Linked DNA regions of Homo sapiens: all the other regions are linked to region 1. The links come from fine-mapping of genetic effects on gene expression. A gene starts in region 1. Each other region holds a variant in brackets. All regions are shown on one strand. Distances are from middle to middle. Region 1 holds the start of CCT6B (chaperonin containing TCP1 subunit 6B). Region 2 overlaps LOC105371742 (a long non-coding RNA gene). Region 3 overlaps LOC105371742 (a long non-coding RNA gene). Region 4 overlaps LOC105371742 (a long non-coding RNA gene). Region 5 overlaps CCT6B (chaperonin containing TCP1 subunit 6B). Region 6 overlaps LOC105371742 (a long non-coding RNA gene). Region 7 overlaps CCT6B (chaperonin containing TCP1 subunit 6B).

The links. PIP is the estimated chance that this variant, and not a neighbour inherited with it, causes the effect. A credible set is the group of variants that fine-mapping cannot tell apart.
Region 2: its variant is the best candidate, but not a certain one, in a credible set for the expression of CCT6B in whole blood (INTERVAL, PIP 0.90).
Region 3: its variant is the best candidate, but not a certain one, in a credible set for the expression of CCT6B in prefrontal cortex (GTEx, PIP 0.69).
Region 4: its variant is the best candidate, but not a certain one, in a credible set for the expression of CCT6B in vagina (GTEx, PIP 0.71).
Region 5: its variant is the best candidate, but not a certain one, in a credible set for the expression of CCT6B in left ventricle (GTEx, PIP 0.66).
Region 6: its variant is the best candidate, but not a certain one, in a credible set for the expression of CCT6B in blood mononuclear cells (TOPMed, PIP 0.67).
Region 7: its variant is the best candidate, but not a certain one, in a credible set for the expression of CCT6B in whole blood (TOPMed, PIP 0.86).

Annotation. Positions count from the first base shown.
Region 1 is chr17:34,959,346-34,963,345 of GRCh38, forward strand. It overlaps CCT6B (chaperonin containing TCP1 subunit 6B), which reads right to left and starts at 2,115. Exons shown (of 14, transcript NM_006584.4): 1 at 1,912-2,115; 2 at 242-305. The coding sequence starts at 2,048. It overlaps ZNF830 (zinc finger protein 830), which reads left to right and starts at 2,195. Exons shown (of 1, transcript NM_052857.4): 1 at 2,195-4,000. The coding sequence starts at 2,222. The coding sequence ends at 3,340. RefSeq lists a silencer at 1,645-1,939 and enhancers at 1,659-1,708, 1,809-2,028, 2,079-2,158, 2,239-2,488.
Region 2 is chr17:34,841,580-34,845,579 of GRCh38, forward strand. The region is part of intron 2 of LOC105371742 (a long non-coding RNA gene); the gene reads right to left. Among named protein-coding and RNA genes, the nearest start is that of CCT6B, 120 kb to the right of the region's middle. The variant C/T (reference allele first, on the strand shown) is at 1,885.
Region 3 is chr17:34,876,025-34,880,024 of GRCh38, forward strand. All of the region lies in intron 2 of LOC105371742 (a long non-coding RNA gene), which reads right to left. Among named protein-coding and RNA genes, the nearest start is that of CCT6B, 83 kb to the right of the region's middle. The variant C/T (reference allele first, on the strand shown) is at 2,000.
Region 4 is chr17:34,912,240-34,916,239 of GRCh38, forward strand. The region is part of intron 2 of LOC105371742 (a long non-coding RNA gene); the gene reads right to left. Among named protein-coding and RNA genes, the nearest start is that of CCT6B, 47 kb to the right of the region's middle. RefSeq lists an enhancer at 1,351-1,410. The variant C/T (reference allele first, on the strand shown) is at 2,377.
Region 5 is chr17:34,932,830-34,936,829 of GRCh38, forward strand. All of the region lies in intron 10 of CCT6B (chaperonin containing TCP1 subunit 6B), which reads right to left. Among named protein-coding and RNA genes, the nearest start is that of CCT6B, 27 kb to the right of the region's middle. The variant G/A (reference allele first, on the strand shown) is at 1,640.
Region 6 is chr17:34,797,730-34,801,729 of GRCh38, forward strand. The region is part of intron 3 of LOC105371742 (a long non-coding RNA gene); the gene reads right to left. Among named protein-coding and RNA genes, the nearest start is that of CCT6B, 160 kb to the right of the region's middle. RefSeq lists a silencer at 68-268 and an enhancer at 778-1,477. The variant G/C (reference allele first, on the strand shown) is at 1,615.
Region 7 is chr17:34,926,433-34,930,432 of GRCh38, forward strand. CCT6B (chaperonin containing TCP1 subunit 6B) reads right to left here. Exons shown (of 14, transcript NM_006584.4): 13 at 2,530-2,602; 14 at 1,429-1,685. The coding sequence ends at 1,616. Among named protein-coding and RNA genes, the nearest start is that of CCT6B, 33 kb to the right of the region's middle. The variant C/A (reference allele first, on the strand shown) is at 1,617.

The sequences.
Region 1 (4,000 bases):
GTCTTGAACTCCTGGGCTCAAGCAATTTGGCCACCTCAGCCTCCCAAAGTGTTGGGATTACAGGAGTGAGCTACCACACCCGGCCAAAAAAATTTTTTTATTGAGGTCTAATTCAACAGTCTTCAGCATATCTCAAGACTGCAGTATTTAGCTCACAGCCTTGGCTTAAAGATACACAAGTTCTACTATGCTTCTAATTAAGGCTTATTAAGGTTTATTAAAGTCAGCAGCATCAGCTCACCATCTCATCGAGCAGCACATTGCCATCTTTGGTGAGTTTGATGTCACCTGCACCAGAAACAAGCCTGTTCAGAGAAGAATGATATTAACTTCATGTGGTAGGAAGACATTCCCAGTGCTTGCCACTCCATTATCCTTAATAGAGGGAACTGGGCTCGGAAAACTTCCACTGTACCATGGGAATATGCCATGGTAATTACCACCATTTGCAGCTCACAGAATCATTTCTCCCCAGATGGACAGATTATGGAGATTTCATTCCAAATGGACTATTTACAGGTTTAAAGATAAAAGCACTTGATGAGTTACGAACTGTGGTTTGGTCAAAGAATACTTGGAAGTCTACAAAGCACAAATTCGCAAATTTCCTGCAGGTTTTAATTTTGGTGAATGTTTTCATTCATTCAGTCACTCAACTTAGTTTCCCTCATCCCTGCATTTATTAGATCACCAAGTTCTATCAATTCTACTACCTAAATATCTCTTGAATCTGCCACCTTCTCTCCATCTCCACTGTTATCATCTCTACTTTGGATGGCATCCGGATATCTCCAAACTTAAATATACCCTCCACACATTTTTCTTTCTAAAAGGCAACGTGATTCAGTCAGTTCCCTGATCAAAAGTCCTCCAATGATTTTTATGTTTTCCATCATTTTCAAGTTAAAATCCAAACACAGCAATGACATACTTGACCTTTCCCAATATCTTCCCTGCCTCATCTACTTTTCCACAAGCAAATCTTCTGGTTCCCTTAATATACCATGTTTTGTTTCGTTTCTGTTGGATTTGCACCATTGGTCTTTCTTATTCCTGAAATTACTTTGCCCAGGCCTTTACTCCCTCTTCCAACTAGTGAAGTCTTATTCTTCTTTCAAGACTGATCAAACATGTTACTTAAGATGCTTTTCCTTCTGCCATCAGTCCCTTTCTTCAGCATAATTATATGCATCTATATATAATTAGCACATCCTACTCTACCACATCCGTCTCTACCACATCTCCTTAAGAACAGAAACCGTTATCTTGATCATTTCTGTGTCCCAACAACTGGTACCTAAGTGACTTATTTTACCATTAATATTATTTTGTTCATTACTATGAGGATGTGTCTCTCCTCTTATACCCTTTTGCCCTCACTGGTCTCTTTTCCTCACTCTTGTCTATAGAAAAGGGTGCTTAATATATACTGAAAAGATGAATAGATCTGAACAACCATAGACACGGGGTATTCAAGTAGAACTTGGATTTGACCCCATGCCTTCCTGGCTCCAAAGCCTGTGTCCTCTCCACTACAATACATTGCCATACAAAAAACAAAACTACTTGTTGAATTTATGGACCAAGGGTATACAGTCTTAAGGAGCAGAGGAGTTAAATGCTTTGTTTCCAATGAGACACTAAATTAACTGACTTTCTAACTGCATATGAACCTTGACGACAAGTCGGGGGTCGGGGAAGCGCCACAGCTTCACTCCCGGGGCCCTCTACTAGGGGAGGCTTTTCTCCTCCACCTGCACCAGGCGAGAAATACCCCCAGAGCAGGGATGAGAATGAGGGAAATCAAGCTCGCAAGAACATCCACAGCGCTACGCGGACGCCTGCCTCAGAGGGCGACAGGACACCAACGGGCCCCTAGCCGCGTAATGGCCGCTCCAACCGCTGTCTCACATTTTCATGGTGCCTTTAGGACCCAAGTTGGTCCGCAGCACATCCTGCAGCCCTCGGGCGGCGCATATATTGACAGCCAAAGCTGCCCGGGCCCGCGCCACCTCAGCCTTGGAGTTGACGGCCTTTATCGCAGCCATAGCCTAACCGTTCAGAGGGAGAAAAAAAAAAAGCCTTAGTCGCGATTCTGAGCAAAAACGGCAATGCGACGCCACGCTCTCTTGAGCCTCGGCCAATCATCGCCCTTACAGGAAGTGACGTTATCATGCCTCGCCCGACGGAAACCAGAATCGTTTTGGGTCTGGTCGCCAAGATGGCGTCCTCCGCCTCCGCCCGGACTCCGGCAGGGAAGCGAGTGATAAATCAGGAAGAATTGCGGCGGTTAATGAAGGAGAAGCAGCGTCTGAGCACCAGTCGGAAACGGATAGAATCTCCATTCGCGAAGTACAACCGTTTGGGGCAGCTGAGTTGTGCCCTGTGTAACACTCCGGTTAAGAGCGAGCTCCTGTGGCAGACTCACGTCCTGGGAAAGCAGCACCGAGAGAAAGTGGCCGAGCTGAAAGGCGCGAAGGAAGCCAGCCAGGGTTCGTCCGCCAGTTCAGCGCCTCATTCCGTCAAGAGGAAAGCGCCGGACGCAGACGACCAAGATGTCAAGAGAGCGAAGGCCACCTTGGTGCCTCAGGTACAGCCCTCCACATCTGCGTGGACCACCAACTTTGACAAAATAGGAAAGGAGTTCATTAGAGCGACTCCCAGTAAGCCTTCAGGACTCAGTTTACTCCCCGATTATGAAGATGAGGAGGAGGAGGAAGAGGAGGAGGAAGGAGATGGAGAAAGAAAAAGGGGGGACGCCAGCAAGCCGCTCTCCGACGCACAGGGCAAGGAGCACTCAGTTTCCTCTTCACGGGAGGTAACAAGTAGTGTGCTGCCAAACGATTTCTTTAGTACTAATCCTCCCAAGGCCCCCATAATTCCTCATTCAGGGTCAATTGAGAAAGCAGAAATACATGAAAAAGTGGTGGAAAGGAGAGAAAACACCGCGGAAGCGTTACCGGAAGGTTTTTTTGACGACCCTGAGGTAGATGCAAGAGTACGAAAGGTTGATGCTCCAAAAGATCAGATGGACAAAGAGTGGGACGAATTCCAAAAAGCCATGAGGCAGGTCAACACTATTTCCGAAGCCATAGTTGCCGAAGAGGATGAGGAGGGACGGTTGGACCGCCAGATTGGGGAGATCGATGAGCAGATAGAGTGTTACCGACGGGTGGAAAAGCTACGGAATCGCCAGGATGAAATAAAAAATAAACTTAAAGAAATCCTGACCATAAAAGAACTGCAGAAAAAGGAAGAAGAGAATGCTGACAGCGATGATGAGGGGGAACTACAGGATTTGTTGTCTCAGGATTGGAGGGTGAAAGGGGCATTGTTATAGGGTTTTAAAGACCCAAGGTTTCTAACAGCCTCTGCTGTTGTATAAAAAGTGCTGTCTCTCAGTAGTATAGCGGTTACTTCATGCCTCAAGATTTGGGTACCTGGATTGCTAAACTGGATTGTTGAGATAAAATGAGCCAGTGAGCTACAGCACTTTGGAAAATTTGTGTAACATGTTTTTGAGGTAAAGTTGTTTTTGAAATTTCTGAAGTGTTATATACCAAAATGCCAACATTTCCACGACAGACTTAACTGTATAATTTCGTTGTAAAATCTGTAAGTTGTAAATATTGTACATAGTTAAATCTGTATTCTGTTTTGAATTTTTTTAATTAATAGAAAGACCAACCGGCAAACTTTCAGATGAATGCTTACTGTGGTATTTGGAATGTATGTATCTTCTGAACCCTACATCAAGTTGAAAAGGTTTGTTTTCTTGTTTCTTTGGTTTTTGTATGGTTTTTTAGAACACTTCATAAACACATAAGTCATTGTAGGTTAATCAGTTCTCTTAGTGTGCTTTATTTTAAAAACATAAGAAAACTATATGCCAAACATGACCAAACCAATGATGGTCAGATGTGGTTGCACATGAGAGTCACCTATGAAGCATTAAAATAATTAAAGTGTCTGAGGCCTTCCCCTTCAATAAATCTGGGAT
Region 2 (4,000 bases), 120 kb before region 1:
GAGGAATGGCCAAAATTGAAGACTTAGAAATTACTAAGTGAAACTGGCCAGGAGTGGGCTCACTCCTGCCACCCCATGGGGCAGTGTAGGCAGTGGAAGAGCCTAGAAGAGGAGTGGAGGAGGCCACCCTGCAGGATATCAGAGCCTCCCTGGGCCTCACTGACCAAGGGCTATACAGCTGATCATCGGCCCAGGCCAGAGAGAAGGAGGGTCCTCCCACCCTGCTGTGAGCACAAGGGCCATCCCTAGCAAGGTGGGAGAAGAAGCTGAGGGTCCAATCAGTAGCTCCATGCCTCCTCGTCCCTTCCTGGGGTGGCCTGTTTCTGTGTCCTGCAGAGTGAGGCTGGGGGCTGGGAGCTCACCCTCCTCTTCACATGCACTACTCCGATTGCAGCCAAACTTCAAGGGTCTCTCAGGCCTCCAGGCCCACGGAGGCTGGGTCATTCTGCACTAGCTTTCTGAGCACTTCCTGCTCTGTCATTCCTCCCCTGAGCACAATAGGCTTAGAGGGTTGGGTCCACGTTTTCTCTTCTCTTATGTATGCCCCCTCCCCTAACCTTCCTCTCTTCCGTATACACACACTCCACCAGGTAAGTGTGGGGTCTGGCCATTCCACACTGACAGCTTCCCTTCCTCTCCACTCTCCCTCCTGACACCCTGGCACCCACCCTGCCTTTTGCCGGGAGACGGGAGTGTCTAAGTCACAGTGGCCCAAGACCCATCTAGAACAACCACAGTTGGGCATCTCCTGGGCATACCCAACAGGGAGAACAAAAGAGCCCTGCAGGGGAGTCAGAAGACCTGGTTCTCGCCCCAGTATTACTGCCACCAACTTGCTGTGTGACCTTGACCCCTTGCTGGCCCTCTCTGAGCCTTATCTGTAAAATGTAAGGATTACATGAGATGGTCCTAAGGTCCTTCTTTGCTCCAACATCCTGAGTCCCTCACCACCAAGGGAAGCTGAAAAGGAGAGAAGAGAGCTGGCCCAGACTGACCCCCGGGCATTGGCCACGCAGTGTGTGGGGTAATGTTGGGGAGGTGAGCAGAGCTGATATAGGCCTCTGCCTCTGCTCCAAGCCATCCAGGAAAGACATGGTCATGGGGGTAAGAAAGCAAAGCCTCACCCTGGTTTAATTGCACAGTTAATTGGAAATATAGGCCAAGGTTAACTTAAAGGAAAGAATGGTGCTTATTTGGGTGGTTATGCAAATTTATTGCTGCAAAGACTTCCAGGGAAACTGATTATCTGACTATGTGAAGAAACAAGATTAAGAATGAAAAGGGGGAAGACTCTATGTTCTGCAATTCTCAGGACCACCCCCTTAGAAACTGGATCCTCCATCCCTCTCCTAGCCCCACAGAGCAGAACAAGTTCTTCCCACAGCACAGAGATGGCAAACAGAGGCCTGAAGAGCATGGGCACACAGCCGGTTAGTGGCACAGCCATTTGAGACCTGCCCTGTCCCAGTGACCTAGGAAGCCCTGCCCTCCTTCTCCAAGGAGACAACTTTATCTCACCGTCCTGCTACGGGAGGTGAGGAGGACTTCTGTCTGCTCTTCCTTGGAAGGAGGGGTGTGGTGTCCAGCCTCCAAGACAGCCTGGCTGATCCTCATCTCCTGATATTCATGCCCTTGTGTGGTTCTCTCCCACAATGTGTAACCAAGGGGTTATCGCAAAATGACAGTGGGTGACATCCAAGGCCAGATCATTGCACTTCCACCTTGTTCTCTCTTACTGGCTCGGGAAAGCCAGCCGCCATGTTGTGAGGACACTCAAGCAGCTGTAGAGAGGTCCAAGTGGTGAAGGACTGAGGTCTTCTGACCATAGCACCACCTTGCCAGGCATTGAGTGAGCCATCTTGCAATGGAATGAATATCTTAGGG[C/T]AGATTCTCCAGCCTAAATCAAGCCCTCAGACAACTGCAGCCCTGGGCCAGCATCTTGACTGTAACTTCAGAAGAAACCCCAAGCTAGGCTGTTCCCAAATTTCTAACCCAAAGAAACTATGAGAGACAATAAGTATTTGTTGTTTTTTAAGCCACTTAGTTCTGGGGTAATCTGTTATGCATCAATAGGCAACTGATGCAAGGTGGTGTTTTAAAATGTGCATTTCATTATTTTTCAGGTGTGGTGAGGCTAACAGATTAGGAGTGGCTACCATTGAAAAGATGGTTTGTTACCGTTCCCAAGGGGAGGGGGTATGCCAAGCCATGCAGGGGCCACATGGGAAGCCAGGGCTGTTCGGCAGGCAGAGGGAGCAAGATGAAAACATGGGCAAATGCCTTTATTGTGGTCTTTACAGGAAGGGTGGGTGAGGCAGGGTAAGCAGGCTCAGGATTGGCTGGTTTGCATTATTTCAGCGAGTTCTGAGATGTAGGGGCCATCTCTAGTTGGGGTGATTAGGGCAGAGGAATATCAGCATAAGAGCATGATAAAGAAGGTGGTTGGGGTAGGGACTCTCTATGAGTTGGTTTGCATAGGAAATGCACCCTCTAGGAATTGGCTGGCAATGGGAGAGGCAGTCTCTCCAAGGTCAGCCAGGCCCCAGACCACAAAGCATCAGAAACACAGAAAATAAAAAGGGAGAATAGGCCAGAGCAGTAGGGACCCTCCTTCCCACAGCTTGGCTTCCTCTTCTTGGGAGTCCATGACTTCAAGAAGCTCAAGGGACTGGGATGGGGAGGTTGGGGGCAGGAGAAGTGGGGTGGGAGGCTGGGTTCTTATGGCCGGCTCCAGAGAGACAGCAGCAGCCCTGGACATGGGGTGATCTCCATTCCACTAGCTCCTCCTCAGCCACCTTCTAGGTCCTGTGGCCTGAAGATCAAGTCCATACATCCTAGTATAGCACACGAGGCTCACCCATAGCCTGTCTGGGGCCTGCCTCTGTGGTCTCATCCCTCTCCCACCAAGGATTCCAGCCCCAGCCCTCAACCCTGCCCCAGCCCATGACCCCTCCTGTCTTCTTCAATGGGCCTCTCATATTCCCTGAACAAGACAAGCCCTCCTGGCTCTCCCCAGCTCTACATATGTTATTCCCTCAGCCTGGCATGTGCTCCTCCCCTGTCACTTGGCAAATTCCTGATTGAAACCTCAGCTTGCAGGCAGTCCCTCCAGGAAGTCCCTATGGCCCCAGGTAGGCTAGGTCCCTCCACCTCAGCACCCACAGCACTTGGCGATGTATGGCTTCACCTCCTGCGTCTCTCCCTGTGGAATCCGAGTTCCTGACAGGAGGGACCGTGTCTTACTCATCCTTGGGTCTTCATCAACCTTGGGCCTTTATCATCCTTGGGCCTTTCTCACATGGCACTGGACCTGATATTCAGTCTGGCATTCCCAGTAAAGAACTTTGTTAAATGAATGAATGAATACATAAGCAAATGGGGCCTTGAGCAATTCACTCCTGCTCTCTGGGGCTCAGTGATTCACCTCTAAAATCAGAATCATCATCAACATCATCATGATCACCATCCCTTCCCTGCTCACCTCACAGCCTGTCATAGCAATGCAGTGAGACAAAGAAGGTACGTGAGCTATGTAAACTGTGAAGTGTGGTGCACCCATGAGGGGGGCTTTCCTTAACTCTCCTGGGACCTAGCATCACTGCACTCTGCATGGCTGCTCTCTCCCCTAGCCCAGGTTTCAGGGAACTTCCTAGGACCTTCTGGGAAGAAGGCAGAAAATTGCCTCCTCCGGTTCTCCCTCCCTCCCTGTTCTTGGAGCAAGTCTGCTTCTGCCCCTTCCCAGCTTCCTCAACAGCAAGTGGAGATCCCTGCAGCCACAGTCTCCCCTCTCCTTTCATTCTTCCCCTCTCTCTTTTCAACAAGCAAACTTGAGAAATGGTAACCATTTTCCCCATTATTCAAATGCATGGAAATTACCTACTTGGCATTCCTCTTTGACATGGAGCCTTTAATTAGCCACTGGCTCCCCAGTCCCCGGGTGTTTCTCTGGCTCTGCAGCTCCCTGGCTTCCTCACTCCCCTCCCTCCATTAGCATCCTAAT
Region 3 (4,000 bases), 83 kb before region 1:
TGTGGTGGATACTGTGGTATGCTGCCAAGGTCTCCCCCTAAGGGCTGAGGCTCTCACTTTCCCAGCTGCCAGGTCTGCTGACAACTGAGGGCTCACAGCTGAGTCCCTCTTCAGGCATTGCCTTCAGTCAAAAGCTGCCTCACCCAAGCATATGCCCCTTCCCTGGAAAGCCCACCTCCAATGACTGTTCTACAAGAGTTACAAAGGTACAGCCTCCTTTTCCTCAGTCTGGGATAATGTTCAAGTGCTATTCTAGCCCCAGAACTCCCCCAGGGGGTTGGCTGAGGCCTCTGCTGCAACAGCAGCAGAGTGATTCAACTTCTCCCTCCACCCCATCCTGCTTCCCTCACTCCCTTACAGGTATTTTTCCTGAGTGCACACCCCTGTAAACCTTCTGCACACAAATTTAGTTCTCCAGAATCTGTTTGCAGGAGAAACTGACCTATGGCAGTCACAGAGCTTGAACACAGCGGAACTGGGATTCTAATTCAAATGGGATTGACTCGGACACCATTACTCTTTCTGTTCTTCCACAATGCCTCTGCCTTGCCTTTGATCAGTCATGGTGGGTTAGGGTCTGGGGATCCCCAGGTGAATATGACACAGGCCTTGTCTTTAGGATATCCTATTCCTCTGGAAGAAGCAGTTCCTCAGGAACAGGGTGCCAAGGGCAGAGCAGATGCTGGAGGAACCCATGGGCAGCCCCACTGGCATAGGCTATCTTGGGATCTAGACCACAGCAATGCCCCTGCCAAAGGTCAACAAGACAGGTCCTCTGCTCCAGGCTCAGAGCCTACAACCTCCAGAGAGGATCTCAGCCAGCAGGGCTTACAGCAGGCACTGCTACATGAGTCCCCTGCGGTAAACATGGACCAAAAGCCACCTAGGTGTCTGTTTTTTTGGAAAAGGATGTAGAATTCCCAGTCCCTGGCTGGGTCCCTGCAGGCTCAGCTTAATTCTCAGCTCCTTGAAGGCCTAATATCCTCTTAAATGTCCTTCTTCCAGCTTCTCCTGAGGTTTGGCGCTGCTCTGATGACCACCTTTATCTTTTCTGCAGTTTCTCTCCATTCTCTCCTGTGGCTCCGCCTGTTCCTGGGAGTCTCAAGAAACTCTCCAAACATACTCGCCCTGTCTCCTATGATTCCACTGCCCAGTGCCACTTCCCAGGCCTCTATCACGCCTCTCAGATGCTCAACAAGTATCAGAAAGGAGAAAGGGAGACAGGAAGGAAAGGAGGAAACAGAAAGGGAGGAAAAGGGAAGAGCAGTTGTTGAGGGAAATGTGAAGAAAGATCAAATGATAGGGATGCCCTATATTTATCTGTTTTAATGTCTCAGGCCTCCAAAGCATCATTTAGTGTTTCTCCAAACACTGTCATCCTCCAAGGCAGGTCCCTTGCCTTCAGTTCACAGCTGGAAACACTGGGCCTCAAGAAAAAGGGAGAAAGCTTTCCTGAGTACATTCCGAAGCAGCAGCAAGTGATTCAGATCTTGGGCATCCTAATTGCCTGGCAATGCTGAGACCCTGGGTGTGAAGTACTAATGGGCAGATTCCACCCACGTAATGATCAGAGAGTGGTGAACAGATGCTTGCAGGCAGATCAGAGCCACATCAGCAGGAGCGGGAGTCACTCCAGGCATTCTTCACATCCCCTGCTGGCTTCAGGTAAGGGCCGCTGGGCCTCAGGAGAGGCACAGTTTCTGGGGGAAACCACAGCCCTGGTGCCTTCAGGGAACAGAGAGTACATGCACTCTCTGCTATCCAGCGCTGGCTTCAGAGGCTAAAAGGCTGAGGCCTAGCTCCAGCTCGTCCTCCTATTTGCTATGTAGCCTTGGCCAAGTCTCTTTCCTATTCTGGCCTCCGTCTTCCTGCCTGTAAAATGTGAAGGGTGGATGCAGTGGTTTCTGAGGGACCTCCAGAAGGGAGACCTCCAGGATCCAGGGCCCACCAGGTGAGAGACACACGTGGACCAGCCCCACATTGAGGCTCACTCAGTCCC[C/T]TCATGGGGTTGAACACCAACCTCGAAAAACCAGAGGCAGCTGGAGCCCCTCAAGGTACCTGGCCTAGTCCCCCTCGATTTCCTCCAGGTCTGTGCATCTAGACTCCTGGTTCTGGGGCTGGGCCCTGAACCTCTCTTAGCTGTAGAAGAGGAGGAAGAGAAAGACTAACACTTGCTAAGCACCTCTTCTGGGCTGGGCACAGAACCATTGGCTTTTACACACATTTCTTGCTGGGATCCCCCCAGTGAGTGGTCTTATCCCCACCTGAAAAATCTAAGGTTCAGGGAAGTTAAGTAACTTGCTCAACATCACCCAGCTCTTGGTTGCCAAGGTCAGAATTCCAGCCTGGAGCAGTGCATGTTTACCTTTGCATTGTCAGAGAAGTCATTTGCCATCAGATCCCATCCCTTTCCTCTCCAAACCAAAGATCCCCTGTGCATTTTGGAAGAGGAAGACAGCATGTTGCCCTGAGAATCCAGGTTTCAGGGCTCATGTGAGAGGAGGTCAGACATAATGGAAGAAACCCAGGCTCTGGGGGCAGCAGCCTTGAGGTTGGGTCCTGACTCTGCTACCTGCTAACTAGGTAAACTTGAGCAAGTTATAACCTCAATTTTCTTATCTGTAATGAAAGGATATTAATATCTGCTGCATGGAGTTGTTGCAGTAATTGAGCCTGACAATGGATATAAAAATATCTGGCATAGAATATGTGTTGGATAAATACAACCCTCCTTCCATTTCTGCACAGCCCAGCTTCTCTTAGGCTCAAGTTCTGATTCTCTCTCATATTTTAAGCCCTGAGGGATGGGCTTGGATACATTTACTCTAGCAAAATGTCTCTATCATAAAGGCAAGCTCAAGAAAGTGGTTTTCTTCCTCTGCCCCCGGCCACAGAACCCCATCAAGGAGGCACAGTGCAGGCAGTGGCCTCGGAAGCAGAGCTGGCCATAGCAGGCGCTGCCTTCCTCCCCCAAGCCTCAGAGCTTGCCATCTCTATGCCTTCCCCTTCAAGCTGAAAGCTGGCACACAGGCACCACAAGCCAGATGTTTGAGTTTTGTTAAGAGCAGCTTAAATAAAGCTTTTAGAACAATAATTCTCAGCCATCAAAGGGACATTTCTCTTCTGGCTTCATCTCTGACACACAGGAGATTTTTAAAAGAAGAAACAGGGGAGGAAAACAACGCCTCTACAAAGCAGGAACATTTTTAAAAGCACAGCGATTTTGCCATCATGCTCTAGCCTTTCTGATATCTCCAATGAAAGAGGAAAGGAATTTCGTGGAAGAGCCAATTTTTCCCAGCTCTTGGCACACATCTGGAGCCCCAGAAGTGTCTGGGGGAAGCTGAACAGGTGGTGGCCATCTGACAAGCCCCCTAAGGCAGAGTTTAAAGAGACATACACTTGGATGACATTGCCAAGTTGGGAAGTTTGCCTCTCTCTCCCTTCTGACACCTCTTCTTCTCCCAATCAAGACTTTGCCAAGAGTGTGCTTTAGGAAGGGACAAAGCCCACCCCTCCAACTCCATGCAAGAGGGCACCTGGGAGAGGGACCTGAGGCTGGATGCCCCTTGTAGCCTAGAGTTCTCCTTCCCAAGGAAGGTGATAGTAAAGGGAACACAGAAGGTAACACCACCCAGAAGGTTGGCATACACATGGTTGCAAACGCTTCCAAGAGCCAGGTACAACACATCATTGTCATGGTATAAGTATCTACTGCTAGGAGTTGAAGACCAGATTCCTAGAGACTCTGCTAAGCCTGACGTAGCTTTAAAACAAACCCTGCCTGGTAAGAGCCATTGGAGGAATCACCTGCTCAAAAATGAAACAAGGCTTTCAATAATGATCAAATGGCTACCATCAGATCTGTCCTCCCTCAGATAACAACTATAAACTCTGGAAAAGATATTTTAAAGCTACTTAAAGGCACTGGTGAAACAAAAAGCAGGCAAAAATGGAAGGGAATTGACACTTGGAAGAATAGCAATGGGTGGACTTAATG
Region 4 (4,000 bases), 47 kb before region 1:
CAACCAGTTAAGTGGCAGAGCTGGGATTTGAACCAGGTAGGCTGGCTTCAGAGTCTGTGTTCCTAATTATTAGGATGCACAGGACAGGAGCCTGGACAAAGATGGCTTGAAGAGAAGCAGATAGAGCAAGGGGTAGGTGAGAAGGCTCAGGGGACAAATGTTGCCTTTCATACTATTTTCTTTCCTTTTTTTCTTTTTCTTTCTTTCTTTTTTTTTTTTTTTTTTTTTTTTGAGACAGAATCTCACTGTGTTGCCTATGCTGGATGGAGTGCCAATGGTGCCACCTCAGCTCACCGCAACTTCTGCCTCCCAGGTTCAAGCGATTCTCCTGCCTAAGCCTCTCAAGTAGCTGGGATTACAGGGGCACGCCACCTCATCTGGCTCATTTTTATATTTTTAGTAGAGATGGGTTTCACCATGTTGGCCAGGTTGGTCTCAAACTCCTGACCTCAGGTGATCCACCTGCCTCAGCCTCCCAAAGTGCTGGGATACAGGGGTGAGCCACTGCGCCCAGCCTATTTTCTCCCCATAAAATTCAATGGTGATGCTATCCATTTGGTGCTTGGGAAGTTGACACAGTGCCTTTCTATCTGATCCTTTCAACGACTCTGTAGAGTAGGTATTATCATCATCAATTTATAGATGAGGACATTGAGATTCAAGAAGTTAAGTAACCTTACTAGGGATGGCAAAGACAAGATTCAAATACAAGGTTTGTCTGTCTCTCCTTCCCATGCTCTTTTATTCATTCAAAAGGCACTTATAGGTACCTGTTTAGTGGCAGGCAGTGAGCTAAAAGTATTTGAACATGGGAAAGACACTGCCCTTGGAAGGATCCCTTGGTGGTGCCCCTCTCACTTGCACCCTACACACAGACCCATAAGGAACAGTCATCTTACTCTTGGCTGAAGCACATGAGCAGGGGTGAGGTGGGTAGGGGCAAGGGAGCATTCATGAGATCCTACTGTGTGCTTGGCATTTTTCTTGCATTCCATCACTGACCCCTTCCATTAGCTCAGCAGGGTAGATGAGGCTGAGGCTGCTTTACCTGTCTGGCGTCCTTCTTCCTACCTTCTCAGCATGAGAACCCTGGTTTTTTTGCCAATGAGCCTAACTAAAGACTACATTTTAAAGCCTCTGTTGCAATTAGGTGTAGCCATAGGGCTAAGTTCTGGATAATGAAATGTCAGAGGAAGTCATTGTGTGAGACTTCTAGAAAAGCTTCTTAAAAGGAAGTGAAGGCCGGGTGTGGTGGCTTACGCCTGTAATCCCAGCACTTTGGGAGGCCTAGGTGGGCAGGATCACCTGAGGTCAGGAGTTCCAGACCAGCCTGACCAACAAGGTGAAACCCTGTCTCTTCTAAAAATACAAAAATTACCCGGGCGTGGTGGAGTGCACTTGTAATCTCAGGTACTCAGGAGGCTGAGGCGAATTGCTTTGAACCCAGGAGGTGGAGGTTTCAGTGAGCCAAGATCACGCCACTGCACTCCAGCCTGGGTGACAGAGCAAGATTCTGTCCCCCTGCAAAAAAAAAAAAAAAAAAAGGAAGTGAGACTGCTGAGGTGGGCCCTTTCTATTCTGTTATAATGGCTGAAGGTCCAACAGACATTGCAGATCATTAAGGCAACTCTGAGGATGAAAATTATGTGCCCGGAAGAGTGGAACAAAACAATTAGAAGCCTGGGCCTCAAATAATAGTGAGAAACCACTATACATAAATCCTGATTTCCCTGTCTCTGAACATGAGAGAAAAATAACCTTTTTTTTTTTTCGAGAAGAGTCTTGTTCTGGTCACCCCAGGCTGGAGTGCAGTGGCATGATCTCAGCTCACTGCAACCTCTGCCTCCCAGGTTCAAGCAATTCTTGTGCCTCAGCCTCCTGAGGAGCAGGGATTACAGGCACACATCACCATGCCTGGGTAATTTTTTATTACCCAGAGACAGGGTTTCACCAAGTTGGCCAGGCTGGTCTCGAACTCCTGACCTCAAGGGATCTGCCCACCTTGGCCTCCCAAAGTGCTGGGATTACACGCATGAGTCACCATGCCGGCCCCGAGAAAAATGAACTTCTGTGTTGCTTAAGTTAATATCATTCCTGATCTCAACTTCAGGCAGCCCAATGCATGTCTTGACTTATACAGTAGCTTTACCATCATTCCCATTTGGAAACAGGCTGACAGGTTGCCCAAAATCCAACAGTTAAGAAGTGTGATTCAAACTTGAATCTTTCTGGTTCCAAAAGCTATACTCCTCCAATCCTTCTGGTAACAGCCCTTGGGAAAATTCACTCTCTTTAACTCATGAGAAGGCACAAACACTACAGTAGAGTTTAGAACAGCTGAAAACCTTTACATCCCCTGCTCTTGTCTCAGAGATG[C/T]ACATCAGAGCAGACTGTCTTACACCTTACCTATGCACTCTAGTAGGTAAGTTAACCATATACCAGACAGAAGGGAGATTTTTAATTTCCCAGTTAACATCTCCTCTGCCTCCAAATTCCAAGTTGCCAGACTCTTTCAGGGATCCCATAGAAAATGCTATAAACTCACTCTCATGCAAACTTGACAACATGCTCTTTTCTCAGGAATACTTATATTTATGAATTCCTTAGAATTTTCTAGACACTGGATCATGTTGTCTGAAAATAATTTCCCATTCTTGCCTAATGGCACTAGCTAAAACCTCTAGTACTATGTTGAAGAAGTAAGAGTGGGCAGCCTTCCTTTGTTCCTGATCTTAGGTAGAATGCATTCAGGCTTTCACCCTGAACTATGATGTTTTCTGTAGGTTTTTTGTAGATGCCTTTTATCAGGTTAAGGAAGTTTCCTTTATTCTAAGTTTGAGTTTTTATCATAGATTTTGTAAAGAATTTTTGTGTGTATATTGAGATAATTGTGTAGTTTTATCCTTTATTCTACTAATTTGGTATATTATATTAATTGATTTTTGGATATTAAACCAACCTTGCATCCCTGGGATAAATCCCACTTGGTCATATTATATAATCTTTTTTATATGATGCTGGATTTAGTTTGCTCATATTTCATTAAAGAATTTTGTTCACATATTGTTCTGTAGTGTTCTTTTCTTTGATATCAGGAATACTTGCTGTGTCAGAAGCCCACAAGACCACTTCTGGGTTCAGTGGATCAGAACTCAGCATGTAGTTATACTTATGGCCATAGTTTATTACAGAGAAATGATACAAAGCAAAATCAGCAAATTATCCCATCTGGCACATGGGATGAGTCCAGAGGAAAGTTAAGTGCAAATTTCCAAGGTCCTCTCTCGTGGAGTCAGGCAAGATGTTCTTAATTTTTCCAGCAACAAATTGACAATGTGTAAAATGTTGCCAACCAGGAAAGCACATTAGAAACCCAGAGTCCAGGATCTTTTTTAGAAGCTGATTATATAGGAACTACATGCCTACATACCCAAATGTACCCAAAATTCCAGACTTCCAAAAGGAAAGCAGGTATTCAGTATAAATAATACTGACAGTCTGAACATAGGGTAGTGAGAACACTCCCAAATCCAAATTCCCAGATATCAACCAAGGACCAACCTTGAAAGCAGGCCTTTCAAAGGATAAAACCTGGGCCTGCTATAACTCTTTTCTACATACTTGCTTTTAAAACAAAAACCCAGACCAAAAGAAATACTAATGTTGGAATTTTAGCCACAGGAGGTAGGAAGTTTGAATGTCGGGACATTCTTGGTACCTTCAAACTATAGTCCCTTAGCTTACCCCCATATGGGTGTAAGGTTAAGCCTGCATCTCTAGAAAGTTTAATGTGATAATAATAAAGCAACAGAAAAGGGATCTCACTTCATGTCACGCAGTGCTTAGGCAGAAATATTTTTCCTGAACTGTAGGAAAAATGGCTTTATAGGCCTTGTGGCCTTTTGGCAACATTAGGCCCCCCAAACTGCACATCTCATCAGTCACAGTTCTGGGGCAGAGATTGAAAGAATGCCAAAGGGGGAAACAGGAAAGCACACAC
Region 5 (4,000 bases), 27 kb before region 1:
GTACTGTAGTGGCATGATCTTGACTCACTCCAACCTCTGCCTTCCAGGTTCAAGTGATCCTCCTACCTCAGCCTTCTAAGTAGCTGGAATTACAGGCGTGCACCACCACACCCAGCTAATTTTTGTATTTTTAATAGAGATGGGGTTTCACCACGTTGGCCAGGCTGGTCTTGAACTCCTGACTTCAAGTGATCCACCCACCTCCGTCTCCCAAAATGCTGGGATTACAGGTGTGAGCCACCACACCCGGCCTTATGACTACTTTTAAGAGGTATTTATAATTTATATTGACAGGTAACTGATTACAATATCTGACATGAAAATTCTTTAGACCAAGATCATTTGTCTAGTTTTTGATAGGGAATTCTTGGAACTCAATGAAGTATTTGTTTTTTGTACTGCAGCAGAACTCAAACTGCTATCTAAGAAAAAATTTAAGTGGTATTATTCTAAAGCAAGAGTTTTGGTTAAACACATCAAATTTCACATCAGGATATCACTTTTATATCTGCTACTTGTATGGTTTCATAAAGTTTATGACTCTTATTTAAATCAGAAAACTTGCTTTAAAACAAAACAATACGAAAACAATCTCCCCTTTTATCTCACATCATTTTAAAATTACTACCCCCTTTCACTGCTTCACTTCACAACATAACCGCTCAAAGAGTTGTTTACCCACCAGATGATTACATCATTACCTCCCATTCACATTTTTTAAAAGTTCCTTGTTAAATACAGAATATACTCAAAAGAATATTTATATGTATGATATAAAGAATAAATGCACAAATAAACAAATGTATCCATGTACCTACCACCCAGCTTAAGAAAGAGATTACTAGAACCTTTGAAAACTTCCCTGATCCCATTCTCTGTGAAAACACAACATATCAAAATTTTAGCATCCCTAAAGCAGTACTTAAAGAGAAATTTATATCACGAAACACCTATATTAGGAACGAAGAAAGTTCTCAAACTAATGACCCCAGCTTCCACCTTAAGAAACTAGAAAAGGACAGGGTCTGGTGGCTCGCTCCTATAATCCCAGCACTTTGGGAGGCCAAGGCAGGTAGATCACTTGAGCCCGGAAATTCAAGACCAGCCTGGGCAACACAGTGAGACCCCATCTCTACAAAAAACACAACAATTAGCCAGGTTTGGTGGCACACACCTGTAATCCCAGCTACTTAGGAGGCTAAGGTGGGAGGACTGCCTGAGCCTGGGAAGTCAAGGCTGCAGTGAGCCGTGACCATGCCACTGCACTCCAGCCTAGGTGACAGATCGAGACTCTGTTTCAAAAAGAAAAAAAAAAAAAAAAAACTAAAAAAGGAAGCACAAATGAAACCTAATATAAGCAAAAGAAAGGAAATAATTAGGATGAAAGTGGAAATTAGTCAAATGACAAATGTCAGAAATGAGAAAATTTATATCACTACAGATTCTACAGATATTAAAAAGAATAACAAATGAATATTATGATCGACTTTATGACAATAAAGTTGAAACTGTTGATCAGAAGTTAGTAAACTTTCTGCAAAAGGCCAGTTAATATTTTTCAGGCCATACCATTTCTTTTCCAACTATTCAACTCTGCCACTGTAACACAAAAATAGCCACAGACAATATATAGACAAAT[G/A]AGTATGGCCACATTCCAACAAAACTTTATTTACCAAAACAGGCAGCAAATCAGATTTAGCTCATAGATAGTAGTTGATGATCCTAACTTAGATGAAGTGGACAAATTCTTGAAAGACTACAAACCACTAAAGCTCACTCAAAAAAAACAAAACCTTTATAGCCCTACGTCTATTAAAAAAATTGAATGTGTCATTAAAAGCTTTCCCACAAAGAAAACTCCAGGCTCAGATGGCTTTATTGACAGTCTACCAACATTTAAGAAAGAAATAATACAAATAATACCAATTCTCCACAACAACTTTACACTTTCAGAAATTTGAACAAGAAGAAAAACTTTCCAATTCACTCTATGAGTACAGCATTGTTCTAACACCAAAAAAGATAAAAGCATTACAAGAAAAAATATACACAGACCAATACCCCTTATGAATACATATGTAAAAATTCTTAACAAAATTTTAGCCAATTAAATCAAATAATACATAAAAAGGAGAATACACATAGTACCATTATTCACAATAGCCAAAAGGTAAATGCAACACGTTTCCAATAATAGACAAATAAAATGTGGTATATACATACAATAGAATATTATTCAATGGTAAAAAGGAAGGAAATTCTGGCACATGCTACAACATGAATGAGCCTTGATGACACTATGCAAAGTGAAATAAGCCAGACAAAGGACAAAAACTGTATGATTCCAATTATATGAGATACATAGAGTAAACTCATAGAGACAGAAAGTAGAATGGTGGTTACCCAGGGCTGGGGAGGTGGGTAGGGAATGGAGAGATATTGTTTAATGGGTTCAGAGTTTCAGTTTTGCAAGGAAAAAAAGTTCTGGAGATGGGTGGTGATAATGGTTAGACAACATTGTGAATGCACTTACTAACACTGAACTGTACACTTAAAAATTGTTAAACTGTAAATTTTATGTTATGTATATTTATCACAATTTAAAAAATAATTTTAAAAAAATGTAATCCATTAATTTTTTAAAAAGTAAAATGCATTATAACTAAGTATGGTTTATCCCAAGAATGTAAGGTTTGACATTTGAATCAATCAATGTAATTTACTGTACGAGAAAACTAAACGAGGGCTGGGTGCAGTGGCTCAGGCTTGTAATCCCAGACCTTTGGGAGGCCAAGGCAAGCAGATCACCTGAGGTCAGGAGTTCGAGACCAGCCAGGCCAACATGGTGAAACTCCATCTCTACTGAAACATACCAAAATTACCCTGGCATGGTGGTGCATGCCTGTAATCCCACCTACTCAGGAGGCTGATGTAGGAGATTCGCTTGAACCTGGGAAGCAGAGGTTGCAGTGAGCCAGGATTGCGCCATGGCACTCCAGCCTGGGCAACGAAGTGAGACTTCATCTCAAAAGAAAAAAAAAAAAATCATATGATCATCTCAATAGATGCACAAGAAGCATTTGGCATTTATTCTCGTGTGTGTGTGTGTGTGTGTGTGTTTTGACAAAAAACAACAACAACAAGAAGTTTTACTCTTGTCGCCCAGGCTAAAGTCCAGTGGCACGATCTCGGCTCACTACAACCTCCACCTCCCAGGTTCAAGCAATTCTCCTGCCTCAGCCTCACGAGAAGCTGAGATTGCAGGTGCCTGCCACCATGCCCAGCTAATTTTTTTATTTTTAGTAGAGACAGTTTCACCATGTTGGCCAAGCTGGTCTTGAACTCCTGACCTCAGGTGACCCATGCACGTCAGCCTCCCAAAATGCTGGAATTACAGGTGTGAGCCACCACGACCAGCCTGGCATTTATTCTTGATTAAAAACTGTCAGCAAACTAGGTGCAGAAGGGAGAACTTCCTCAACCTGATAAAAACCTATAGCTAACATCATACATAATGGAGAAAGATTGAATGCTTTCCCCCTAAGATCAGCGATGAGGAAAGGATGTCCATTCTCATTATTTCTAGTCAACATTATACTGGAGGTTCTGGCCCATGAAATAAGGGAGAAAATTTTAAAATATCCATATTGGAGAGCAAAAAGTATAACTGTATAGCAGACAATGTAATCACTTATATAGATAATTCAATGAAGCCTATAAGAAAGCTAATTGTGATTTAGCAAGGTTGCAGAATTCAAGATCAATGTACAAAAATAAAATATATTTCTATATATTAGCAACTAACAATCAGAAATGGAAATTTTAAAAATAGCATATACAATAGCAACAAAATACATAAAATATATAGAGATAAATATGGAAAAAAGTATGTGAGGCTCATATACTAAGATCTATGAAATATTGCTGAGATAAATTCAAGAAGACTCAAATAGATAAGATGATATTCATGAGTTAGAAGGCTCATTATTAAAATATCAAC
Region 6 (4,000 bases), 160 kb before region 1:
CACGTTGCACAAAGGCCAAGGGGAGAGTGGTGTTTGTGGGGTTGAGGGAGAGGGACCCATTACCCACTTAATTCGAAGCCACAGCCAGGCTGAGATTCCCTCGCACAGTTCCCAAGGTCTGGCTGGTGGCTTAGTGGGCTCTCCTGATCAGCACCTAGGACAGCTCCACCCATCGCCCAGGATCCTCACTGCTCTATCCGGGCCCAGCCGCTTCTGTCCCACCTACCTCCCCAGCCTCCTCGCCTTTCCTTGTGCACCACGTGGGCTTTGTGTCCATTCCTCACTCTTGCCAAGCCCTTCCCCATCTCAGGCGCTTCTGATACCACCCCCTGGAAGTTTTATCCCACTTTTCACAGGGTTCCTGCTCGTTCTGAATATCTCAGCCTCAGCCTCACTTCCTCAGGGAGGGCTGCATCAAAACTGCAGTTCAAATTAAATCTCCATAGATGCTATCTCATTCCTTCATAGCACAGATTGTGGCTGTCATGATATATAGATATTTGTGTGATTACTAATGTCTCCTTCTGCATTAGAATAGGAACTCCAGGGGCAGGGTTCAGACCAGTTCCATTTACCATTTTATATCCGGGACCTAACATCAGACCTGGTTACACAGTTGTTGGATGAATAAATTAGTGAGCCCCTTCTGAATGCAGGAACTATGCTAAAATATAGTCCCTTTCATGGAATAACTTAGAGTTTCATTGGCTAGTTAAATTCCAGTTTAGCTGGAGTTAAAAATAATCTAATCCCACCCCCCCACCCCAATAAAGGAAGTCTTTATTCGACTTTATTCTGAAGCATCAAATCATTCTATGATTAGGTGATGGACCCAGGGATAGAATCCAGCTCCTCAGTTTTCCAGTCAAGCCCAGTCTCACTGTGGCTTCTTCCCCCTGTGGTTCTGTTAGTTTATCTGCCTGTTAATGGCCACACACATACCCCCTTCCATTATCCCATCAGCCCTGCTTGGGCATTGCTATTGATGGCATTTAACCCCCTGGGGTTTCTGTTTGCTCTGGCTCTACCCCATTGCTGCTTTCCCAGAGAGTCTGTCTGGGCCTCCTCAGCAGCTCTGAGTGTGGACAAGAAGGAAGATTTAATGTTACTGCTTTGGTCTTTTGTTTCTGCAAAGCAAACCCTTCCCCTGCTGGGAAACTCATCATCACCAAGCATCAAGCTCAAGCTGAGTTCCACTTAGCTGTTTGCAAATGGCAGTGGGGTGGGTGGAGGGTGAGCAGAAGGCTTGTAGTCCAAGGAGGGGGAACACAGTGTTTGTGAGAAAACACAATGGTAGGAGGACTGTTGGGGAGGAAGATGAGGTTTGTGATGAAGACTGGCTGACTGTGAGAAAAGAATACACCAGGGCACAGGTCTGCCTTGCCCACAATCAATCCCTGAATTGACCATCTTCTGATCACAAGCATGGACATTGGTCAGTACAGGCTTTGGCACAATTCCCATGGTACATCCTAGGCAGCTCTCAGCCTTCTATGAGTGGACTGATTATCTCACCAGCTGAGAGTCCCTGGGAATTCTTCTAATCTCTATGGGCTTCACTTTACTCATCCTGCAAATGGGAATGCTTGCAAAGTTGCTGTCAGTATATAACAA[G/C]ATCATTCATACACACACTCAGGGAGGGCTTCACACATCATAGGATGCACAACAAACATGCTCTCCTCCCTGTAACAAGTATTTAGCCTCGCTTGCTCTCTACTTTGACCACAACTTGCCCAACAGCAGGGCTCACCCATTGTGGCTGGCCCAGGACTAGTGGAGAGGGATGGGGTAGGTGGCGGCCATGCTAGCACTCTGTGTCTTCATCTATCCCTGCACCTCCTCCAGCCCCATGCCTTCCTTCCTTGTTCATTCCAGTCATCAGTGTTCTCTGAACTGCAGGCAGAGTAATGTATTCCGTGGTCAGAACGTCTTCTGCTCCCTGCTGCTGCCATCTCTGTCTTGGTCTCCCTCCTCTCCACCCCATGAGCATGAAGACAAAATACCCATAGATGAGATGAAAAGGATAGAGGTAAAAAAGGACAGAGCAGAAGAAGGGGACCAAGTCCCCCCACCGTCTCAGCTTCCCTAATTGAATGACTCTCCTACCTGACTCTCCTGTCGGCTCCCATGTTCCTTCATTCTCCCTGATGGCCCTGAAATCATCTCCCCCATCTCATCAAATCTCTCCCCCTTCCTCCTGCTTGTTCTCTAAGCCGCAGATTACTTTTTCATAAAATTCAATTTCTAGCCATTCTCATTACTTACTCACTTAATGTGGCGGGGAGGGGGAGCAGAGGAAGACGAGGGAGGGAGATGGTGTCTGTGCAGCACTTATCCAGCCTAGTTACCAAGGCCCCTCGCTGAGGTGTATTAGAGTCTGATAAGACCAGATAATGGACTTCTGTCCCCACACAGGGAGCTGGCATTGGCGTATTCGGGTATTGCGGCATCATGTCGGAGGGTGGCAACACTTACAATTGTCATCCGTGACTCCTCTCTTGCTGGGAAGAGTCCACTGGGAAAGCTATTTGTTCAACAAATATTTTCAGAGAGAATTTTATTCACCTGTCACCCTACTAGGCACTGGGAGCACAGTCATAATAAAGAGGGGTCTCTCTCCCAGGCCCAGTGGTCAGGGAAGAATTCGGGAGGAAGAGGCATAGAAGAAGATCTGAATAGGAATTATATAAGCTCAAAGAAGAAAACAAGTATCTTAGTTTGGGTTCCCCTTTAAAAAGGAGCCTGAAACAAGGGCTTCGGGGCAGATAATTTACTTGGGAGATAATCCCAAGAAACCAGAGGGAGGGAGTCAAATGGGGAGTGAGACAGGGAAAAAGAGAAATCAGTAAAGATAGATTAAGTGAGTTACTTCTGTAGAAAACTCCAGACCCTCTGCATAACCACATTGAATATGCCACAGAATTATCCCTTAAGGAAGGAGGATAGGACATTATCCTCTGACTCCTGTCCCCATTGTTTGAGGGTTAGCCCCAGTGGTATTCATTTCCCTGCACTTTCATTATGCTTGTACAGGCTGAGCAGCCTTCTCAGACTTCTGAGAAAGCCCTGAGTCTGAAAAGCAGAGAGATACCACTTTGCATGCTTGGGATAAGATGCTGGCAGCATGCCCAGAATTGTCTACCACAGTTGCACTGAAATCAGATCAATGAAGGGAATGTGGTGTGGGGCACACAAAGTGTCTGCTACAGTCCACCCCTTGTAGAGCTCAGATCTGCCTGTGACCCAAAATAAGTTCACCTTGTTGCTGAATTTTCAAGAAAAGGCAGGCCTTAATCTCTATTTTCTAAAACGTTCTTCAGACAGGAAGGTTAATGTGTCAGGGTACAGTTCCAACAGCTACAGCAGGTCCTGAGAGATATCCATCCCCCATGCCCTTTACCACTTACTCTATATTTCCTTTACCCTCAGCCTACCTGATTCTGCCAGCCTGGGTCACTTGCTCAGTGAGGTACCCAGACCAACATCCATGAGACAGGTAAGGGGGGTGAGCCCCTGGTTGCCTCAGTCCCATTAGGCTGTTTTTGCTGCAATTACCTATTCACTATTATCATCAGGTATGGAAACATTAAGAGATGCGCCAGTGAACCCCCTGAGTTCCAGACAGAGTCTTCCCCATCCTGGTTAGGTAGCAGCAACCCCAGCTCTTTGTGAAAATCGTGGTCAATTACTCCGACCTTCTTTTTGCTAGTCCACTGACATGAAGGATTCAAAGTGACCAGGGATCACTCAGGGTCAGTCACAGTAGAACTCTACTGTGTCTCCCTGTAGAACCGGAACCTGGCCTCCACCAGAGCCTAGAGTTGGGGAGACAGAAAGCACATCTTCTTCTTGAAGGTTATTGGAAGTGATGATAGATGGACCCAACTTGCTTCCAACCCTTGTTTCCCAGATGTATATTCTAGCTCTCGGGGGACACAGCACCATGCATGAACCATTGGTTCAATGCATACCACATCCTGGAGGTCAGTACCACAACCCT
Region 7 (4,000 bases), 33 kb before region 1:
TCAAAAAAAAAAAAAAAAGAAAAAGAAAAGAAAAGAAAATCTGAAACAAATATGGCAAAATGTTACTATTTGTTAAAGCTAGGTGGAGGGTACAAATGTGTTTATTATATTACTTTCTGTCTTTTTGGTATATTTTAAATATTTCAAAATTTAAACAATGTTACACAGAAAAGATCTGGCCATATGCATGGTAAGCCCATTTTAAAAGGCCTATCCTATAGAATAAAGACAAGTTTAAAAAGGAGATCTTTCTTTATAACAGCAAAAAAAAAATTGAAAACAGAATTAGTAAAATAAATTGTGGTATAACCATACAATGCAATGCTATGTAACCATAAATAAGTGATGGTTCAGAAGTCTGAATACTAGGCCAGGTGTGCTGGCTCATGCCTGTAACCTGAGTACTTTGGGAGGCCAAGGCAGGCAGATCACCGAAAGTCAGGAGATTGAGATCTGCCTAGTCAACATAGTGAAACCCCTTCTCAACTAAAAATACAAAAATTAGTCAGGCGTGGTGGTGTGCACCTGTAATCTCAGCTACTAAGGAGGATAAGGCAGGAGAGTCACTTGAGCCTGGGAGGCAAAGGTTGCAATGAGCCGAGATCATGACTGCACTCCAGCCTGGGTGAAGAGTGAGACTCCATCTCAAAAAAAAAAAAAAAAAAAAAAAGAAGAAGAAGAAGTCTGGATACTGCCTTAGAAAGATGCTGACAGCATATTAAGTGGAAAAAACAGGCTATAAAATTATAGGGTTAAAGGAACCTTCTCCTATATGCACAAACAGGCCAAAGTTCCATTAATGCACCTGCCATATTTTAGTCTCTTATCAACTACCATCCACGGAAAGAAGTTAACCACAAGAACTCTAATAAAAATAAAAAGCATAATAGATTAATTCTAGAGTTTCAAACAAGAAAGATATTGCTATAATATCTATACTGAACAGTTGTATTATAAGCCAAAAATAATTATTTCCCACCATTGGTGTCAATAATTCTCTTTCCAGATGAGACCTGTTCTATCTCACCATCTAGACAGAGAGCTACCAGAGCTAGCACAGTGGCATAAATTGTTGATCATACATACAAAAACAGCCAGATAAAATATAATAAATGATATACAAAATAAATTGAGTCAGATATTATAAACAATGCAACCCAAAGCTACACGCCATATTTATAAGAGGAAAGAGTGGCAGCAAAAAGTCACTGAAAGAATTTTGAGAGAAAATGAAACATTCTGTCCTACTATATTTATACCCTCTGATAAATTGGAAATTTACTTGGGTGTACTAAAACCTCTATTTTGTTAATTAAAACTTGTCAAAAGGTCTAAGTATCATAAAGATCCTATGCTATAAAAACTGCAATAGCATATAACAAAGAGTGGGGAGTTAGGACTCTTGGGGAAATATTTAAATATTATTCCTTTACTGTAAAAGTATTTATTGTGTTCTTTATACCTTGATGAAATATTTTTGAGACTATTAAGACCCAAAAGACATAAACTGCATTTATTGTGTAGAAATTCAGAATGGCTCAGGCTACACAATAGTAGTCAGATGTAAAGTGTACTAAATTTCATCTTCTAGAAGGGTTGATTTTGAATTCAATCAT[C/A]ATTTGAGAGAAGACATCCCAGCTCGCATAATTTCATCAACCAGGAGAATGTTGGTGGCAATCACTGTGCTAAGGAAAAAGATGAGAGGGTGAGTAAAGCCTACTAACCCACTCTTAGCTTTTTTCCCCAGCAATCTTTACCTATGTAGGGTACTTTGTTCTTTAATGATGTTAGTATGATGTTTTATGAGACAAGGCTATTATAAATACAAATACAAATGTCACCTTTTTTTTTTTTCCCAAGATGGAGTTTCACTCTTGTTGCCCAGGCTGAAGTGCAATGGCAAGACCTCAGCTTACTGCAACTTCTGCCTCCCAGGTTCAAGCAATTCTCCCGCCTCAGCCTCCCGAGTAGCTGGGATAACAGGCACCCACCAACACGCCTGGCTAATTTTTGTATTTTTAGTAGAGACAGGGTTTCACCATGTTTGCCAGGCTGGTCTCGAACTCCTGACCTTAGGTGATTCACCCGCCTCGGCCTCCCAAAGTGCTGGGATTACGGGTGTGAGCCACCGCACTGGCCCAAATGTCACCCTTTGTATTATAATTTAAACTCCTTTGCTGATAAAGTGCATTCCTGATTTATATTTCAGCAAAATTGAGCTTATTTTTACAATATCATTTGATTTTCTCCATCATGCATGTGCTATTATTTCAGTAAATTTCCCCTTTTCTTTCCCCCTCAAATAGTAAGGTTAATTTTTCTTAGAACTTAACACTGCTAGATCTAAAATATAAAAGGGACTATGGACTATAAAATGACAGAAGCTAGTTCTAATAACTGAATACCACACCTTTCATACACTTGACAATTTTTCCACTGTACAGGGACAAAAATAATAGAAAAAATTTCATCTTAATATTATCAATTATAACTCTACAGGTCTTTCACTTTATGTTCATATGAACTTACCAAGAGTGAAGAAGTTGTTTTTTTACACAATAATTATCCCAAACTCCTGCATCTGCTGCTACCATTGGCTCACCTGAAAAGTAAAAACAATTTTCATACCAAAATCTTAGTATTTGCTATTAATATTAATTGATATCTTCTAAAAATATTTAATACATTACCAAAACTACTTTTGTCAAGGTCATCAATGACCTCCATATTGTTAAATCCAATGGTTGATTCTCAGACCTCATCTACCAGTATTTAACACAGTTGATCACATTCTGCCGCCTACTCTATGTTATCTTCCAGGATACCACACTCTTCTGGTTTTCTTTCTTTTGCATTAGTGGCTCCTTTTCTGATTACTTTGCTGCTTCTTCCTCTTCCTCCCTGACCTCTTAACGTTGGAGTACCCAAAAGTTCAGTCCCAGCCTCTTTTCTCTCTACCCTTAATCCCTAGGTGATCTCATCCAGACTTTTAGATTTAAACCATACACATCTGATGACTCTCAAGGTTTTTTGGGTGTTTTTGTTTTTTGTTTTCTTTCTTTTTTTTTTTTTTTTTGGTGTTTTTTGTTTTTGTTTTTGAGACAGAGATCTTGCTCTGTCACTCAGGCTGGAGTGCAGTGGTGCCATCTCGGCTCCCTGCAACCTCCACCTCCTGGGTTCAAGCAATTCTCCTGACTCAGCCTCCCAAGTAGCTGGGATTATAGGGGCCTGCCACCATCCCCGGCTAATTTTTGCATTTTTAGTAGAGATGGGGTTTCACCATGTTGGCCAGGCTGGTCTTGAACCCTTGACCTTTAGTGATTCACCTACCTTGGCCTCCCAGAGTGCTGGGATTACAGGCGTGAGCCACTGCGCCTGGCCTGACTCTCAGGTTTTAATCTCCAACCCAGACCTCTTCCTTGAACTCCAGACCCATATATCCAACTTTTTTAATTAAAAGATTACAGATGCTTCAACTTTGACTCTGCCAAAACTGAATGCTGATGTCCTCTCACCCACAACCTGCTCCAGCCAGTATTCTCCACCACAGTTGATTGCAACTCCAACCTTCTACTTGTTCAGTTGACTTCTCTACAAAGTGGAGAGTGGCCAGAGTGATTCTCTTAAACATAATTAGGCCACATGCCTGGCCAACATGGTGAAACCCTGTCTCTACTAAAAATACAAAAATTAGCCGGGCGTGGCAGCAGACACCTATATTCCCAGCTACTCCGGAGGCTGAGGCAGGAGAATTGCTTGAACCTGGGAGGCAGAGGTTGCAGTGAGCCAAGATCGTGCCACTGCACTCCACAGCATGGGTGATAGAACGAGACTGTCTCATAAATTAATTAATTAGGCCATGTCACACCTCTGCTCAAAATTGCTCCCTGCTCCTCTAAAGTAAAAGCCAAAGTCCTGAGACTGGTCCAAATGCCCCTGCATGATCTGACCTTCTGTCACCTCTCTCACCTCCTTCCTCAGAAACATCAGACACTGGCTT